3 separate regions of the Homo sapiens genome follow, and all the other regions are linked to region 1. Evidence: fine-mapped expression QTL. A gene starts in region 1. Each other region holds a variant in brackets. All regions are shown on one strand. Distances are from middle to middle.

Region 1 (6,578 bases):
AGATAAAGATGAGAGAGAGGATAAACTACACACACACAAACACATAAATCCATACTAAGACCTAAGAGTGCCAACAACTAAGAAAGAAATATGAAAAAGCTATGTAAGTAGCTATGATTTCAACACTACAAAATCATTTTTAGGCTGGAACCAAACACATAACAATCTCTTGGCAATATTTCGTTAAGTTTTCAACTTTTTTCCAGCCTAAATGACTATGGGCAATAAAACCATTTCCTTTACCCCAGTTCTACTGTAGAAAGGCACAGCGCTGTGGTAAATATCAAACCATTCCTTTCTCAACCTTTCAGTAGCAATTAACCAAGATACTGTTCTCCTTTACTGAATGACTCAATTATACAGTTTCATGTACACTCTGCAACGCAAGTCACAGATGTCATAGAACATGCAACTTTGAATTAGTAAAGGTTTCACTGCAAAAATCATTAGGTTCACACAATTTAAATCTACAATTAACTTTTAAAGTTTAATCAGGTAAACTCAATATTTTCTTGGTAATAATACTGGTGATATTAGTGAGCCCAAGGGCAGGTAGAGAAAAAGCACTAGGCAAAATTACGTGTTTTTTAAAGAAACTTTCCTAATCAGGGAAATAATTAGCATTTTGTCTACTCGTTGAATGTTGAATTTGTCAAAAAAAAAAAACCCTTAAATATATTTAATAGCTATATCAAATTGTTTAAAGTGAAATCATGCACTTGTCAAAATAGTTCACAGAAAATTGTTTAGCATCAAAGATAATGAGGAAGAGTCAACCAGTTGGATTTAGTGAGAATAGAATAAGAACTACTGTCCTGAACAGTCAGTGTATGTAGTAACCATATTTCCTCTTCGTTGAGTGACAGTCCTGCAGTGCTTGCTAGATCCATGAAATCTATTTTCAGTCTGTACTGTATGCTGATTGGTAGAGTCAAAACCACTAAAAGAAAACATTTTCTCCATATCTTCAAACATGTCATCAAATAATCCACCTCCAAAAGAAAATTCTTGGAAATGATGCCTTTGTCTACTGGAACCACCATCCTGGCGTGTCTGGAAATGATTTTCAAAACGCTTCTTGGATCCAGTGTTTTGGTTTTGACCAAAAAAGCCAAAGTCTTTAAATAAGTCATCAAAATTGAAGTTAAATGACTGCTCAAAAGAACTTCCACTACCTCTTTGTCCTTTACCACTAGTAAAAGCACTGTGTCCAAGTGTATCATACTCTTTTCGTCTATTAGCATCTGAGAGTGTTTCATATGCTGAAAGTGACAAAAATATTTTTAGTAACTGAAGGTAAAATATTCAAAATTACATATATTCAAATCTCTTCAAGCAAGTGAACTGAATACTATTATTTTAGGGAAGAATTTCGCATCAGAAATAAAAGCAAAACACTACAAATATAAGCATCAAGTTAATCAAAATTATAAAATAAAGCAGAAACTGTCTTATTAACTGCTGAGTTATCAGCAGTTGGCACAATGCCATCTGCAATACTCAATAAAGTTATTAAATGTTACCATTACTACAAATAAACATGTGGGCAACAATCAGAGTTCTTTAATCTTCATATTATTCGTGTGAAATCATTAATTGTATTAAAAAATTAAACCATCAACTATAACCAATTAATAGGAATTAAGATTTTGCACCTCCTTACTAAAGTAAACTGTTTAATTCTAACTCCCTACTCAGTTACCTCCATCCAACAATAATTACTGAATGCTCAGCAGGTGCAATTTGTTTTAGAGCTAGTCTGAAGTCAAAATTTGTTCCAATTTTTTCTTTGAAGACAAATATGGCTTTGAAAAGCAGATCAAGTGAATAAAGCACTTTAGAGTCTAGTTTAATTTTTAAGTCTTTAATGTTTAAAATGTAAAATATTCTGTTTCATAAGTTAGTTGATAAGAATTTTGGGTACCTAAAATTCTTTTTTGTCATAGAAGCAACAGTGATCTTATAAATAATATAGAATAGATTTTCAATATTTTTAGATACGTATACCAATAAAATTATCTATTATTCTTTCATATATTTATTCAGGAATCAAAGCATCTGTGATAAGAAAATAATCTCAGAGAATCACCCAATATTTATACATAAATCCCACTCCACCTCCCATCTCCACAAAACCTTCAAATACAAACACTTCTTAGCTATCATTCTCCTTACTAGTTAATACCCATGACACTTCAGAGATTGTCATTTATTTACCTTCTGCAATCTCTCTGAATTTTGCTTCAGCATCCGGGCTCTTATTTTTGTCAGGGTGGTACTTCATGGCCAACTTGTGAAAGGCCTTCTTGATTTGGCGCTCTGATGCCGATTTTGGCACACCTAAGATATCATAGTAGCTTTTTGAGGCCAGAATTAATTCTGTTATCATTAAAATGCAGATTGCAAAGATGAAAATTGACTGGGGAGTAGCCATTTCTAATATCCTAAAACAGAAAAGAAAAAAAAATGTTATGGATGGAGCTAATCTTAAAACGTTTTTCTTTTAAAAGAAATCCAACACAAGGTAAACCTAATGCAGTATCAAAATAGTAAGCATACAGTATCTATTACCTGTCCACATGTAATTTCACTTTTAGTTTTATAACTCTCAAACTGGCTTAACCTTATTGAGAACAAAAATAATTCTTGGCTTTGTCTGTCTACTAATACTCTGGCCATACACAGAGGAGATAGAAAATTATCAATAACTGACTTTTAACCAGTTTATATTGAAGATTCATCATATGCAAGCATTGTAAGAAAAAAAAAGAAAACCAAATAATATAAGATCCCAACTTTCCTTTCAAGACTTCATATCCTGAAAGTAATAATGTATTTAACTTCACAGAAAAAAAAAACATTAAAAAAAAAAGGTGGCGCACCAAGGTAAATAGCCCAGTATATCTAAATTAGTATTATTAATCTCGCTCCAAAAATTCAGCTTTCATTTCAGCAGGTGAGCCAAGGACTGCAAATAGAGAATCTTAATATCACAATACTAATACTGACAATACAATAGAATGTTGTCTTTTTCCCAAATGTAAGATCCCAAATGTTTAACCAGGAAGCATGGCTAAATATTGTTTAAAACTCATGATGAACAGAATTTAAGATTTCTGCTAAAGCTGCCAGAAAAATGAACTTTGATAGTTTGTACTGTGGTTAAGGCAGATTCTTACTTTCACAAACTCAGTAGTTAAAATATTTCTTTTACCTTTAAACCATTAAAGAAATGTTAACTTAGAATTCTTGACAATATGTATTCAATGACTTGAGATTCAAAACGAAGGGATGGATCCTGTTTTTTGAATACGGGACCACCAGAGTCCTTAGTAACCTATAATGCCATAATAAGGCTGACGAAAAACACTACGGTTTGTGGAAATTGCCTGGCTTCCTCTCCAGCGGCCTTTCCTGAGAGTAATTAGCAGGCAGGTAGATTACTTATTTCCAGAGAGTTACTCGTAGTCACGGGTACCAAGAATCAAGAACCACTTCTCGGTTTAAGGAACACAACAGTGTGTCCCATGGACGCTGCGTCAACTGCAGGTTGCTCCCTAGTCAAAGGGCGGATCTAAAACTGACAGGGAGGCGCCTCACTGGTTCAGCAGACGTTATTCCACGGTCTCAAGGTGGACATCTAATGATTTTTTTTTAGCAGACTAGTTTTGTATTGTACAGACTTCTCATCCCCAAGACGGCCCCGCCAGCCAGCAGCCCGTGCCTTATTCCCCAGCCTCGGTGGGCGGCTGGGCTAGACCCTCCAACCTTCACCTAAAGGCGACTGGCACTTTCCCTGCCCGCCCAGGCCCCGCCGCAGAAGCTGCCCGAGACCCGGGCTCTAATCCGGCGCCCGTGAAAGCCGGCGCCACAACCCAAAACACGATTCTGTGATGCGGCTGTCTCCGTTCTTCCATTCTCTCGGCCAAAAACATGCAGCCCATTGTCCCTGCGGCGACCGTGGCGGACACCGAGGCCAAGTCAGCTCACAAAGACAGGCCTGGGCTACGGGGACCCTCCGAACTCCCCTCCCCACGACCCCGGCCTCGTCCCTCACCTGCACCCTCCGACTACTGCTGCTCCTCCACAGAGCTGAGGCGCTGGCGACCCTGACGATCGGCTCGGGTCGGCAGCTTGGGCCCGGCCCCTCACCGCGGCCTCCCGGAGCTGGCACGCACCCTAATCTCGGTCGTACACCGACCTAGCGCTCCTCCTTCCCCGCCGGCGCCCAGTCCCCTCTCAGCCAGCTCCTCACAGGCAGGAGGTAGCCGCTGGCGCCACCACCTCAGAAGACCTACACGAAACGCTTCCCCATTGGCTTCTGCCTCCCCACGTGATCCCGGCGCCCTACGCGCACGTGGAAAACTGTTGTTGCTGCTAGGGCTGTGCGCCACTTCCGGCTTCAACCCCCGAAAAGGCGGTGCTTAAACCGGAGGAGGCGGAAGTGAGTCGACAGACGAGGCGGCTTTCCCGGCAGAATGCTAGCGCAGGCGCAGGGGCTCGAGAGGCCTGGACCTGTGGCGCATCCTCAGTGAGGAGGGCCGCCCTGCATCCGTCGCCGGCCCCGGTCTCCAGGGGCCTCACCCGAGTCATGCCCCGCTATTGCGCAGCGATTTGTTGTAAGAACCGCCGGGGACGAAACAATAAAGACCGGAAGCTGAGTTTTTATCCGTAAGTTGTTTCTGGAGCAGAAGCGTCAGCCTCGCCGTGAGGCCTTGGACCTGTGGCCTTTGGGCTTGGGTGTCTCCTGTCCGCTCTGCCAGTGAGTCCTCAGCTCTCCGTACGTGGCCCGTCGCCCGCGGCAAGACGGAGGGAAGGCGCTAGTTCAGTTTAGCTAGCAATGCCCTTCTTGCGCGAGGACTGCTGGCTGGTGGCGAGGCCCAGGAGCCTGTTTGGGTGTTAACAGTTAAAACAGTAAAGTTTGCGCGGGCTTCTGTGGTTTTCAGTCTTTTCCCCACTTCACGTGATCTCATTTCATTGAACAACATTAACCACCATTTAAGATACGTGAAACCTGCGAAGTGGAAAGGTGCACGCAAAGTTAATTTACACCCCCCGCGAGGTAGGTCGCATAGGTATAATTTCATCCCACTTTTCTCCTGAGGAAACTGAGGCCCGGAATGATTAGGTAACCGACCTTGAAAGTTTAGTGTCAGAGCCAGAATTATAAACTAGTCTTCTGCTTAGGGCTGTAGATACTCTGCGGAGAACAAGGTTTTATTCTGTTACTCTGAATTACTAGAGCCACGATATATTTCCATCAAACTACTGAAGCACTGATTTTTATTCAGAAGTACAGACAAGCAGTGTCGTATAATAATTAGGGGTCCAGGCTTCAATGCTAGATCCTGGTTCCACTATTCTGTAGCTTAATGACCTCTTGGAAAGTATTTAAGCTTTGGTGTCTCACATATCTCATCTGTAACATGGAGATGTTAATAGTACTCACATGATTAATAACACATGAAAAGCAACATATTTAAAATACTGCATTTCCATTTTTTCTTGTATTTAAAAACAATTCATTTAGATCTAACCTGGTTCAGATTTTCAGCAGTTGTTTTGTGCTCATTTTACTTTAGACCTGAAGGACTTATTCATTAATGATTCGGCTGCTTTCCAGTATTTTAATTAATGGAAAAAAAATTGATAACCCCACCAGGCGCGGTGGCTCACGCCTGTAATCCCAGCACTTTGGGAGGCTGAGGCGGGCAGATCACCTGAGGTCGGCAGTCTGAGACCAGCCTGACCAACATGGAGAAACCCCGTCTGTACTAAAAATACAAAATTAGCTGCGCGTGGCGGCGCATGCCTGTGATCTCAGCTGCTCGGGAGGCTGAGGCAGGTGAATCGCTTGAACCTGGGAGGTGGAGGTTGAGGTGAGCCGAGATCACACCATTGCACCACAGCCTGAGCAACAAGAGCGAAACTCCGTCTCAAAAGAAAAAAAAACTGATAACCCCAAGTAATTCACAATCCATGGCAATATTTCCAGGATTGTCTCCCTTGAAGCCCAGCCTCAAGATGCAAAGAGATGTTTGGGGGAGGAAAACAATCTAATCCACTTTCAGTTTATAGGGAAATACTACTGTACTAATGGCTCTATCTCTGAGAATGTTTGTAGCAAAAGATCATGTTGAACTTGATTTAACCCCGTATTTCCCAGATTTATTTGGCCTTTGATATTGGAGATGGGGTATAACCCCACACTGAAATTTTTAACTAAACTTTGTGGACCTTACAGTAACTTTTTAGGAAGGAAAAAATAATGCAAGTGAATTGTAAAGATTTTTTTCACTGAAAATGTGAATTTAGTAAAAGTTGTATTATTTCTAGGGTTTTTAAAAAATTTTCTTGTGTAATCCACAAAATAAAAATTGAATTAGTTTTATTCTCCAGTAGCGTCAAACTTGAATTGAATTTGCTCATGTTAACACTACAGCAAACTGTAGTTTAAATGTATATGAATTTGGGAATTCAGTTAATATAGTGTCCAGTTTGTACTGTGATTATCTTATGCCTTTTGGGGAATTACATAAGACAATGAAACAAAATTATCAAATGAATTGAACCAATAT
Region 2 (6,578 bases), 29 kb after region 1:
GTCAAGACTTTGATATTTTTCTAAATAGATATTTTTCTAGACAATTATCTTCATCTTGAATGACTTATCTCTTGATTAGGATTTTATTCTATGAAGCTTAAGCTCTACCTAAATTTATTCTCTATCTTCACAGATATATTATTCCTAAAATTGTCTGTAAATATTTGAACTAGTCACGCTTTTCACAATGGAACTGACAGCAAATTGTCACTTGAGACTTAGAAGCTGCCATTCTATCTTAATGCTGTGGAATGTTTTGCTGCCAACTCCCTCAAAATAACAAAAATTTGCGGTTTACAATTGTTCTGGGAACTATACTAATCTATTAGACATGAAAAGTCACTTTCACTACACTTTAAAAACAGTATAGACATTCTTAACACTACATAGTAATATTAATAATGCTATGCTTCATTTACTGGTCTTTTTAAATCTTATATCAATTCATTTTATGGAGCAATCCAACTGTTTTTGTCATTCTTGGCAGTGTGTCTATTTTTAAAAAGGTAGCCTCAAATTCAACAAACTATAGCAATCTATATCTTTCTAAATAAGACAAAAATAAAACTAAATATAATTTATTTTTTTTCTGAAAATATCTCTACTAGTTTCCTTTGATTGCCTCTTCCTTCTAAACTTGCATTACTGCATTTCAAGTGTGGAATTTACAGAGAATCTAGGCCAGGCGTAGTGGCTCATGCCTGTAATCCCAGCACTTTGGGACTAGCAGACTGCTTGAGCCCAGGAGTTCAAGACCAGCCTGGGCAACATGATGAAACCCCGTCTCTATAAAAAATTACAAAAATTAGCTGGGCATGGTGATGTGCCCCTGTAGCCCCAGTTATTCAGGAGGCTGAGGCAGGAGAATTGCTTAAGCCCAAGAGGCAGAAGTTGTAGTGAGCTGAGATTGCACCTCTGCTACTCCAGCCTGGGTGACAGAGTGAGACCCTGTCTCATAATTAATTAATTAATTAATTAATTACTAAAGAATTTATGGAGAGTTTGTTTCATAAGCGTTTTTTACTCCCCATATGTTGTTGTTGTTGTTTACCTATTCTATATCAATGACCTTCTTTGTTTTTGTTTTTGTTTTTTTTTTGAGATGGAGTCTTGCTCTGTCACCCAGGCTGGAGTGCAGTGGCGCGATCTCGGCTCTCTGCAACCTCTGCCTCCCAGGTTCAAGCAATTCTCTTGCCTTGGCCTCCTGAGTAGCTGGGATTACAGGCGCCTGCCACCATGCCCAGCTAATTTTTGTATTTTTAGTAGAGATGGGGTTTCACCATGTTGGCCAGGCTGATCTTGAACTCCTGACTGACCTGAGGTGATCCACCCGCCTCGGCCTCCCAAAGTGCTGGGATTACAGATGTAAACCAGCGTCCCTGGCCCAATGTCCTTCTTTATTTAGAAGATTATTGACAGTTTGGACCATGAATTGTCTCCTTTTCTTCCTTAAATGTTTAGTAGACTTCATCAGGAAAATCACTTAGGCTTAGAATTTTCTTTGTGGAGAAGTTTTTGAAAACAAATGCAATTACTTTAATAGAAAAAAGATTATTCAGAATTTCTTTTTGATCTTGTGTTAGTTTTGGTAAGTTATATTTTTCAAAGACTATCCATTTCATCTAAGTTGTCAAATTTATTGGCATATAGTCGTTCATAATTTTTTTTATATTTTAGCCCAGCCTACCCCCCATTATATATAGGAAAATGAGGTCCCAGTGGTGACTTGTATAACTTCCTAGCTCAAACTGGCATGATTTGCTGTTAACTTCTGATGTGCAATACATTGTGTTTACCTATGTGTATGTTTACCTAAATATCCCACAAAATTTTGCATGCCAGATGGTCAAAACTATCACTGGGATAAAAAAAATAGGGCCAACCCAGGAAAATCCTGATCACATAGGTCTTGGATATCCTTGGCTGGAACAATTTAGTATAGCAATAAAAAATACTGGGAGATATTTCAGACCTAGATATGCAAAACTGAAGATCACAGCTACTGCAAATTGCAACATTTTAAAGACGACTTTCTCTTGGAAAGTAATCATTTGGTGATAGACTGCTTATCATCAGTCCCTAGTTGTGATGTTTGTAGTACCATCGTGATGGCAGATGATCACCATCAACTTCTTTTCTTCCTGGCTAAGCATGCCTTACTCCATCAAGAGATAGAGGGCAGAACCTATTCTTCCCTTCTCTTGAATCCGGACTGGCCTTAGTGACTTGCTTGATGTTCTAGGGCTCCCAAACCTAGCTCATAAAAAGCCTTGCAGCTTCTGCCTGGGCCTCTTGCAACACTCATTCTTGGGAAAGCAATTTGCTATATAAGAAGTCAGACAACCCTGAGCTCACCATGCTCTGGAAGCCCTGTGATACTGTTCCAGTCAATTGTTTTGAGCTGGCTGGGCACAGTGGCTCACACAGGTAATCCCAGCACTTTGGGAGGCTGAGGCGGGCGGATCATGAGGTCAGGAGATCGAGACAATCCTGGCTAATACGGTGAAACTCAGTCTCTACTAAAAATACAAAAAAATTAGCCGGGCGTGGTGACAGGCACCTGTAATCCCACCTACTCGGGAGGCTCAGGCAGGCGAATTGCTTGAACCTGGGAGACGGAGGTTCCAATGAGCCGAGATCGTGCCACTGCACTCCAGCCTGGGTGACAAAGCGAGACTCCATCTCAAAAAAATAAAATAAAATAAATTAAATTTAAAAAAAAAAGTTTTGAGCCTAGTCTTCTAGCCATTCCCACCAAGGCACCAGATATGTAAGGGAAGCCATTTTGAATTCTCCAGACCAGCCCATCTGCCAGCTGAATGCCACTAAGTGACTTCAGTCAATGCCATATGAAACAGAAGATGCTTGGCCAGGCACAGTGGCTCACGCCTGTAATCCCAGCACTTTGAGAGGCCGAGGCAGATGGATCACTTGAGGTCAGGAGTTACAGACCAGACTGGCCAATGTGGTGAAACCCTGTCTCTACCAATAAAACAAAAATTAGCTGGGCGTGGTGGCACATGCCTGTAATTCCAGCTACTCAGGAGGCTGAGGCAGGAGAATCGCTTGAACCCAGGAGGTGGAGGTTACAGTGAGCCGAGATCGTGCCACTGCACTCCAGCCTGGGCACCAAGAGCAAAACTCTGTCTCCAAAAACAAAACAAAACAAACAAAAAAAAGAAACAGAAGATGCCAAGCCATGCCTAAATATCTGACCAGGGAAATTGTGAAATATAATAAAATGCTTGTTTTTTTCAACTACTAAGTTTCAGGATTGTTATGCAGAAAAAGATAACCTGAGTGCCATGATTATTTTATAAATGGAGGCAAACATCTTTACCATCTAGCCTTATA[G/A]ACATTTGTGATATTACAAATTAGTTGGGAAAGAACCTGGAAAAATGCCACTCAAGTCCACCATGCTACATAATATATATCTATATCTAAATCTAGATATAGATATAGATATAGATCCTAAGCAATTCTGTTATCCCCTCCACAGTGACAGAATAGCAATACAAATTCGACAAACTATGAAAGTTCTTGCCAAAACATTTGTTTGAATTTAAGGGTTTTTTTTCCTGATCTTCAGCCAATTCAGACTTATTTTTGTGTTCAAGGTGCTGCAATGAACAGGACTGTCAGATTATTGAATGTCATCTTGAAGAGAAAAGAAAAACATCTTCACATATAAGGAAATATTACAGTTGTAACTTAAGGGTTAAGCTGTAAAGTTTTAGCTGGTAAACATAATGGGCTGGCTCAATTTCAGGATGCTTTGAAATGCATTTATATGATTGAATGAACCTGCAACAGGGGATTTGCTTCTTGAGGAATTCTGTCTTACTGCTGTATTAAAGACCTTTTCACTGGATGCCTACAGAGCCCCATACAACTTAAAAGTTACTTTGAGCTTTGCAACTGTTTTTGCAGAGAATCATTAGCAAAACAACAAAAGTGAGCATATACATAAGAATGCTAAATTTAATCAAGTCTCTAGCGCTTTTTAAACCACCTGGATCATAAATTACTTTTGGTAAAAGCCTAACAACTAATTTGGTTTAGTTAGAACTTATTTAATTGGAAATTATACGTGAAGTAATTGAATGTGTCTATTGTGAGTTTTTAATCTTCCTTTTAATTCTTTAATGCAGAATAATTGTATAGCAACAGAAAATACAGTCAATATCTAAACTCATAGATTCCTTTTCTGCTCAAGGAATGATCATTCTTTTTTTTTTTTTTTAAATAGAAATGGTTGCCATTAAACATTCATCTCCTTGGGGCATATTAAAAATTATTACTAGGCTCAAATGGATGCCATGCTTCTATAAAGCTAGGTCTTTTCATGTTAGCTCTAAAGTGGTGTTGCCAAATTGCTCAGATTACTAGAGAAAATAAAGAGCAGAGTAACTGGAAATTGACTTGAACAACTTAAACTTCCAGCCTTATTTTTAGCTCCAAAGAACAATTTTCAACGTATTTTTCAAATGCCTTAACAAAAGTCATTAACTAGAGTGCACACTTATAAATAAAATGGCTTGTAAATACTAAATTGTATATATATTAAAACTCAATGGTGCTGGGCATGGTGGCTCATGCCTGTAATCCCAGCACTATGGGAGGCCAAGGCAGGTGGATCGCCTGAGGTCAGGAGTTCAAAACCAGCCTGGCCAACATGGTGAAACCCCATCTCTACTAAAAATACAAAAAATTAGTTGGGCATGGTGGCAGGTGCCTCTAATCCCAGCTACTCAGGAGGCTGAGGCAGGAAAATTGCTTGAACCTGGGAGGTGGAGGTTGCAGTGAGCTGAGATCACGCCATTGCACTCCAGCCTAGGCAACAAGAGAGAAACTCTGTCTCAAAAAAATAAAAAAACAAGAAAATAAAAAAAAAACTTTAATGGCTAAATAAGTTCATGACCATGTTAGAGTTCATTTCTCAGAATACACAAAAATCTATGTCATTAGTGGAGTGTCTTGTATTTGGCAATCATGGTCAGTAAATGAGTAGAAAAGCTATCTTATCACTTGAGACTAGTAAAATATAGAGATATTCACTGAGCAGACTAAATTGATTTATGGCTTATACTTGCATTGTGATGCAATAAAAGTTATAATAAAATAAAAACTGGGTTTTTTTAATAGATGTATAGATCAAAAGCCACGTTGTGGACTATTCATATGCATTGTGGAACCTATTTCTCCCACCCATACCTTGGAGGATTAATTAATTCTCTTATCAACAAATACGTAATGGGCATTTGTATTAGTCAGGGTTCTCTAGAGGGACAGAACTAATAGGATAGCTACATATATTATATATATACACACATATATATCTATACATGCATCCATCTATATATATATATATATATATATATATATATATATATATAAAGGAGAGTTTATTAAGTATTAACTCACATGATCACAAGGTTCCACAATAGGCCATCTGCAAGCTGAGGAGCAAGGAAAGCCAGTCCAAGTCCCAAAACTGAAGAACTTGGGAGTCTGATGTTCCAGGGCAGGAAGCACCCAGCACAGGAGAAAGATGTAGGCTGGGAGGCTAGGCAAGTCTAGTCTTTTCATGTTTTTCTGCCTGCTTTATGTTCTAGTTGCTTTGGCAGCTGATTAGATGGTATGCACCAGATTAAGGGTGGGCTTTGGCAACACCCTCACAGACACACCCAGGATCAATACTTTACATCTACCAATCCAATCAAGTTGACACTCAGTATTAACCATCAAAAGTCCACCCCTTGTCAACTTGAACCCATACAAATCTCCTGAGATCATACATAATCTTTAAGTAAAGACAATAATAAGGTCATAATTACTCCTAACATAATACGACTATTCTTTGTACAACCAGAAACGCATCAATCCCCAACCCAAATACTATTACATAAAGTTAACATACTTAAATGCTGATGTGAAGTCAATAAATCTTATGTCCCATGATAAAGGAGAAAGGAAATAAAATGAAGATGTTTTCTTAGTACAAGTGTATACATGCATAAACGTGTTTTTAACAAAAGAAGGAAATATTCATGACAATTGCAGTCCTCGTTTCTGCAGCTGGTCACGTGGTCGTAGCTGGTATTGACAACTACCTTCTTCTACCACCATTCTGTATTCCCTTTGCTTTCAGCAAGCACCTCAGCAGGTCATGGTTTTTTTCCTGGTGGAGTGACCCAAACCTTCATTCCTGAAGGGTCTGGGCTATTTGTAGTCCTGCCTGGATTGGGCTGTTGTAGTTTCCCATTGACCTTAATCACAGGGCATGGTAATATTAAGAGATGCCCTAATGGATCTCCTATATTCTATGTGTACTCTTCCTTACCTCCCTTGTGGAGTAGTCGACAGATTTCATCTTGATAGTCCGGGTCAATCACCCCAGCCAACACTGTAACTCCCTTCTTAGCCTGTTGACTTAAAGGTAGGAGGAGCCCAAGTGTCCAGGTGGCAATCATAACTTCCAGTTTAATGGAATCATTGTGTCTCCAGGTGGCAGCGTTCCTCCCTCTGGAACTAAGACCTCTAGGCCAGCGGAACGTAATGTCACAGTAACAGGGAGC
Region 3 (6,578 bases), 160 kb before region 1:
GCTTTAGAGACATTTACAGGTGAGACAGAAACTTACTCTCAAAGTCATTTGCAAATATTAGCCCTTCTCATTCTTTCTAGCACAAAACCATACAACAGGCAAGATATCTCCACATCTGTCCTGAGCCTTTCTTGAATACCTGATAAGACCCACCTCAGAGAATGCAATGTGTCTAAACAGTTATATGAGCTGACTAAGCCTTTGAATGACTTCTATTGACATGCTTATGACATTTCCAGATAGTTTTGCCTAATAGTTCTAGTTTCCTATGGGACTTTGCCAAATAATGAAGTCAATATTATCAGCTTTGTTTCTTTAATCAAATCTAACTATGACATATCTACTTTTTGTTACACATAATTAGAATTGCTTCTTTCAGACAACACATGAGAAATGTTATCAAAGCCCAAGAAATTCTCCAATGAAAGGACAAGATTCTCACTGCACTTTGGCAGCCTTCTCTCTCCCAGCCTTACCTCTCAATTTTAGCACAGGCCCGGCCTGATGACAAGACACATAACATTTAAATTGGAAATGATCATTTTTTTGTGCTCAACAGTATCAATATACCTTACTGAATTTCAATAACTTACCATATGTGAATCTACACTGTGAATATTTGCCTATATTGAAGTTGAGATTAACTTCAAAAAGCAGAATCCTACTTTGCTTGGTCATTTACCTTGAAAAAGTAAGTAACTTTAGTGCTTTCCAATGGTTATAATGCATCCTATTTGTTAAAATTGAATAAATGGTAAGTAATCAATGTGTGTGTTCTAAATGCTGTTCATTGTCAAACTGAGTCTGGCCCTTATTTAAAGATATCCTGCATAAGTAATTGCATCCCTCGATACCTGATTTTAAAAAAGTAGTTGATTTGCCAGTATTTTATTGAGGATTTTTGCATCCATGTTCATCAAGGATATTGGTCTAAAATTATCTTTTTTGGTTGTGTCTCTGCCCAGCTTTGATATCAGGATGATGCTGGCCTCATAAAATGAGTTAGGGAGGATTCCCTCTTTTTCTATTGATTGGAATAGTTTCAGAAGGAATGGTACCAGCTTCTCCTTGTACCTCTGATGGAATTCGGCTGTGAATCCATCTGGTCCTGGACTTTTTTTGGTTGGTAAGCTATTGATTATTGCCACAACTTCAGAGCCTGTTATTGGTCTATTCAGAGATTCAACTTCTTCCTGGTTTAGTCTTGGGAGGGTGTATGTGTCAAGGAATTTATCCATTTCTTCTAGATTTTCTAGTTTATTTGTGTAGAGGTGCTTGTAGTATTCTCTGATGGTAGTTTCTATTTCTGTGGGATCAGTGGTAATATCCCCTTTATTATTTTTTATTGCATCTATTTGATTCTTCTCTCTTTTCTTCTTTATTAGTCTTGCTAGCGGTCTATCAATTTTGTTGATCTTTTCAAAAAACCAGCTCCTGGATTCATTAATTTTTTGAAGGGTTTTTTGTGTCTCCATTTCCTTCAGTTCTGCTCTGATTTTAGTTATTTCTTGCCTTCTGCTAGCTTTTGAATGTGTTTGCTCTTGCTTTTCTAGTTCTTTTAATTGTGATGTTAGGGTGTCAATTTTGGATCTTTCCTGCTTTCTCTTGTGGGCATTTAGTGCTATAAATTTCCCTCTACACACTGCTTTGAATGTGTCCCAGAGATTCTGGTATGTTTTGTCTTTGTTCTCGTTGGTTTCAAAGAACATCTTTATTTCTGCCTTCATTTCGTTACATACCCAGTAGTCATTCAGGAGCAGGTTGTTCAGTTTCCATGTAGTGGAGCAGTTTTGAGTGAGTTTCTTAATCCTGAGTTCTAGTTTGATTGCACTGTGGTCTGAGAGACAGTTTGTTATAATTTTTGTTCTTTTACATTTGCTGAGGAGCGCTTTACTTCCAACTATGTGGTCAATTTTGGAATAGGTGTGGTGTGGTGCTGAAAAAAATGTATATTCTGTTGATTTGGGGTGGAGAGTTCTGTAGATGTCTATTAGGTCCGCTTGGTGCAGAGCTGAGTTCAATTCCTGGGTATCCTTGTTAACTTTCTGTCTCGTTGATCTGTCTAATGTTGACAGTGGGGTGTTAAAGTCTCCCATTATTATTGTGTGGGAGTCTAAGTCTTTCTGTAGGTCACTCAGGACTTGCTTTATGAATCTGGGTGCTCCTGTATTGGGTGCATATATATTTAGGATAGTTAGCTCTTCTTGTTGAATTGATCCCTTTACCAGTATGTAATAGCCTTGTCTCTTTTGATCTTTGTTGGTTTAAAGTCTGTTTTATCAGAGACTAGGATTGAAACCCCTGCCTTTTTTTGTTTTCCATTTGCTTGGTAGATCTTCCTGCATCCCTTTATTTTGAGCCTATGTGTTTCTTTGCATGTGAGATGGGTATCTGAATACAGCACACTGATGGGTCTTGATTCTTTATCCAATTTGCCAGTCTGTGTCTTTTAATTGGAGCATTTAGCCCATTTACATTTAAAGTTAATATATTATGTGTGAATTTGGTCCTGTCATTATGATGTTAGCTGGTTATTTTGCTCGTTAGTTGATGCAGTATCTTCCTAGCCTTGATGGTCTTTACATTTTGTCATGTTTTTGCAGTGGCTGGTACCGGTTGTTCCTTTCCATGTTTAGTGCTTCCTTCAGGAGCTCTTTTAGGGCAGGCCTGGTGGTGACAAAATCTCTCAGCATTTGAATCCAGCAGCACATCAAAAAGCTTATCCACCATAATCGAGTGGGCTTCATCCCTAGGATGCAAGTCTGGTTCAACATACACAAATCAATAAATGTAATCCAGTATATAAACAGAACCAAAGACAAAAACCACATCATTATCTCAATAGATGCAGAAAAGGCCTTTGACAAAATTCAACAACCCTTCATGCTAAAAACTCTCAATAAATTAGGTATTGATGGGACGTATCTCAAAAGAATAAGTGCTATCTATGACAAACCCACAGCCAATATCATACTGAATGGGCAAAAACGGGAAGCATTCCCTTTGAAAACTGGCACAAGACAGGGATGCCCTCTCTCATCACTCCTAGTCAACATAGTGTTGGAAGTTCTGGACAGGGCAATTAGGCAGGAGAAGGAAATAAAGGGTATTCAATTAGGAAAAGAGAAAGTCAAATTGTCCCTGTTTGCAGATGACATGATTGTATATCTAGAAAACCCCTTGTCTCAGCCCAAAATCTCCTTAAGCTGATAAGCAACTTCAGCAAAGTCTCAGGATACAAAATCAATGTACAAAAATCACAAGCATTCTTATATACCTAATAGACAAACAGAGAGCCAAATCATGAGTGAACTCCCATTCACAATTGCTTCAAAGAGAATCAAATACCTAGGAATCCATCTTACAAGGGATGTGAAGGACTTCTTCAAGGAGAACTACAAACCACTGCTCAAGGAAATAAAAGAGGATACA[A/C]ACAAATGGAAGAACATTCCATGCTCATGGGTAGGAAGAATCAATATCGTGAAAATGGCCATACTGCCCAAGGTAATTTATAGATTCAATGCCATCCCCATCAAGCTACGAATGACTTTCTTCACAGAATTGGAGAAAACTACTTTAAAGTTCATATGGAACCAAAAAAGAGCCCGCATTGCCAAGTCAATCCTAAGCCAAAAGAATAAAGCTGGAGGCATCATGCTACCTGACTTCAAACTATACTACAAGGCTACAGTAACCAAAACAGCATTGTACTGGTACCAAAACAGAGATATAGGTTAATGGAACAGAACAGAGCCCTCAGAAATAATGCCACATATCTACAACCATCTGATCTTTGACAAACCTGACAAAAACAAGCAATGGGGAAAGGATTCCCTATTTAATAAACGGTGCTGGGAAAACTGGCTAGCCATACGTAGGAAGCTGAAACTGGATCCCTTCCTTGCACCTTATACAAAAATTAATTCAAGATGGATTAAAGACTTACATGTTAGACCTAAAACCATAAAAATCCTAGAAGAAAACCTAGGCAATACCATTCAGGACATAGGCATGGGCAAGGATTTCATGTCTAAAACACCAAAAGCAATGGCAACAAAAGCCAAAATTGACAAATGGGATCTAATTAAACTGAAGAGCATCTGCACAGCAAAAGAAACTACCATCAGAGTGAACAGGCAACCTACAAAATGGGAGAAAATTTTCGCAACCTACTCATCTGACAAAGGGCTAATATCCAGAATCTACAATGAACTCAAACAAATTTACAAGAAAAAAACAAACAACCCCATCAACAAGTGGTTGAAGGATATGAACAGACACTTCTCAAAAGAAGACATTTATGCAGCCAAAAAACACATGAAAAAATGCTCATCATCACTGGCCATCAGAGAAATGCAAATCAAAACCACAATGAGATACCATCTCACACCAGTTAGAATGGCGATCATTAAAAAGTCAGGAAACAACAGCTGCTGGAGAGGATGTGGAGAAATAGGAACAATTTTACACTGTTGGTGGGACTGTAAACTAGTTCAACCATTGTGGAAGTCAGTGTGGTGATTCCTCAGGGATCTAGAACTAGAAATACCATTTGACCCAGCAATCCCATCACTGGGTATATACCCAAAGGACTATAAATCATGCTGCTATAATGACACATGCACATGTATGTTTATTGTGGCACTATTCACAATAGCAAAGACTTGGAACCAACTCAAATGTCCAACAGCAATGGACTGGATTAAGAAAATGTGGCACATATACACCATGGAATACTATACAGCCATAAAAATGATGAGTTCATGTCCTTTGTAGGGACATGGATGAAACTGGAAACCATCATTCTCAGCAAACTATCGCGAGGACAAAAAACCAAACACCGCATGTTCTCACTCATAGGTGGGAATTGAACAACGAGAACATATGGACACAGGAAGGGGAACATCACACTCTGGGGACTGTTGTGGGGTGGGGGAAAGGGGGGAGGGGTAGCATTAGGAGATATACGTAATGCTAAATGACGAGTTAATGGGTGCAGCACACCAACATGGCACATGTATACATATGTAACAAACCTGCACATTCTGCACATGTATCCTAAAACTTAAAGTATAATAATAATAAAATAAAATAAATAAATAAAGTAGTTGAAGTAACCACAGTCCAAAAGACCTCAGCCAGTTCATTTTTAAAGCTTAGTGTTGAGGAGCTATTCTCCAGAGAGGTTCAACATGTCTTGTGACAGTTTTCATCCAGACTATCTTTCCCAAGAATGATTATATAGTGAACATATTGGAAGTTAAAGATAGTGTCTCCCTCTGGGGCAGAGAGCAGAATGTTTTTTAGTGACCAGAATAATTTTTTAAGTCTCCTTTCAGAACAAAGTTTTGGCAAATTGGCCAGAAGTTTCTTTATAAGACTGGAGCCCAGGGATCCTCAGCTGTGATGCAGACCCACTGTGTGCACACCATTCATCTAGGCCACTCCACATATCCTCATAGGACTTGGAGGACAAGAGGAACAAATGGGACATGAAGCTCAAGCTCTTTGCTGTGCCATGAACAAGATATCCTTTTTCTCTGATCTAGATGTCTCATGTCTTCTGCCAGCACTGTAACTGTGGCAGACTTACTCGTTAGTTTGCGAGCAGGGCACGGTTCTTGACACTAAGCTAAATAACCAAAGACAATCAGGATAGAAAATAATATCTAGGGATTTCAACATCTGGCCAAGATGAAGTAATGGGCCAAATTTATCTTCATGCCTAGAACACTGGGAAAAAAATATATGAAGACAATGGTTGTTAGACATTGGACATCAGGTGGTATAAGACAGTGCTCTACACAAGAAGGGAAATAAAGGGCCTGTAAAAGTGTCCAGGATGAATGGAGAAGAACCCAGAGGGATCCCAACAATCTCCTTAAGTTAAGGACATAGAGTTGAGAAACCAAGGCGGGGAGGGCAATTAGAGTGTGCAAGGCAGAGTAGAGGGGAAGAGATTGCTGCACAAAGACAGAAATCCAGATATCTGCAGAGGATTTGTCTCAGGTCATCAAATGAGTCCTGATCCATGCATTTGTGTGAAGAAACTACCAAAGGCAGAAAGAAGAACCATCTTCCTACAGTGATCGTCTATGCCTCTCTCTCTCTCTCTCTCTCTCTCTCTCTCTCTCTCTCTCTCTCTCGCTCATATTCTATATCTTGCTCTTTCTATTCTGGGAGATTTTCTGCTCTACTCTTTGACTTTAATATCTGACCTATTTACCATGTTCTTGTTGTTAGTTTTGAAATAATATCCTTAGTTTTTAAGAGTTCTTTCTTGGTTTTGCTTTTATGAGGTATTGACCTTGTTTTCTCAGTCCTTATCTTCTTTATCCTGAAGCTCATACAAGACAAGGATAACAGCCAGATTGAAAAATTCATAATGGTTAGAGTCTCTGGTAGAGTACTCAAAAGAGAATTGCCTTAGTAATGGAGTAAAATAAGTCCTAAATTAACACTGCTCTGGACCTACCTAACAAAGTTTAAACACAAGCCTCAAAAGGCTCGAATTATTTCCAAGCAGCTTAGCTGCATCCCAGAACAAAGCTCAAGAATATTTATAAGAATATGCAAAA

Alleles and levels. Positions count from the first base shown, and alleles are read on the strand shown. Sizes are in standard deviations (SD) of each study's normalised expression. Not every link is listed here.
For the expression in prefrontal cortex of the gene that starts at base 4,455 in region 1, A is the high allele of the variant in region 2 and G is the other (moderate effect, 0.45 SD a copy in GTEx).

The links. PIP is the estimated chance that this variant, and not a neighbour inherited with it, causes the effect.
Region 2: its variant is the best candidate, but not a certain one, in a credible set for the expression of THAP5 in prefrontal cortex (GTEx, PIP 0.55).
Region 3: its variant is the best candidate, but not a certain one, in a credible set for the expression of THAP5 in substantia nigra (GTEx, PIP 0.62).

What each region holds. Positions count from the first base shown.
Region 1 is chr7:108,567,583-108,574,160 of GRCh38, reverse strand. THAP5 (THAP domain containing 5) reads left to right here and starts at 4,455. Exons shown (of 3, transcript NM_001130475.3): 1 at 4,455-4,671. The coding sequence starts at 4,592. It overlaps DNAJB9 (DnaJ heat shock protein family (Hsp40) member B9), which reads right to left and starts at 4,287. Exons shown (of 3, transcript NM_012328.3): 1 at 4,058-4,287; 2 at 2,218-2,444; 3 at 1-1,262. The coding sequence starts at 2,434. The coding sequence ends at 808. RefSeq lists enhancers at 4,132-4,859, 4,393-4,872.
Region 2 is chr7:108,539,052-108,545,629 of GRCh38, reverse strand. It overlaps a transcript of THAP5 not described here. Among named protein-coding and RNA genes, the nearest start is that of PNPLA8, 16 kb to the right of the region's middle. The variant G/A (reference allele first, on the strand shown) is at 3,355.
Region 3 is chr7:108,725,466-108,732,043 of GRCh38, reverse strand. No RefSeq gene overlaps it. Among named protein-coding and RNA genes, the nearest start is that of LINC02903, 160 kb to the left of the region's middle. The variant A/C (reference allele first, on the strand shown) is at 3,433.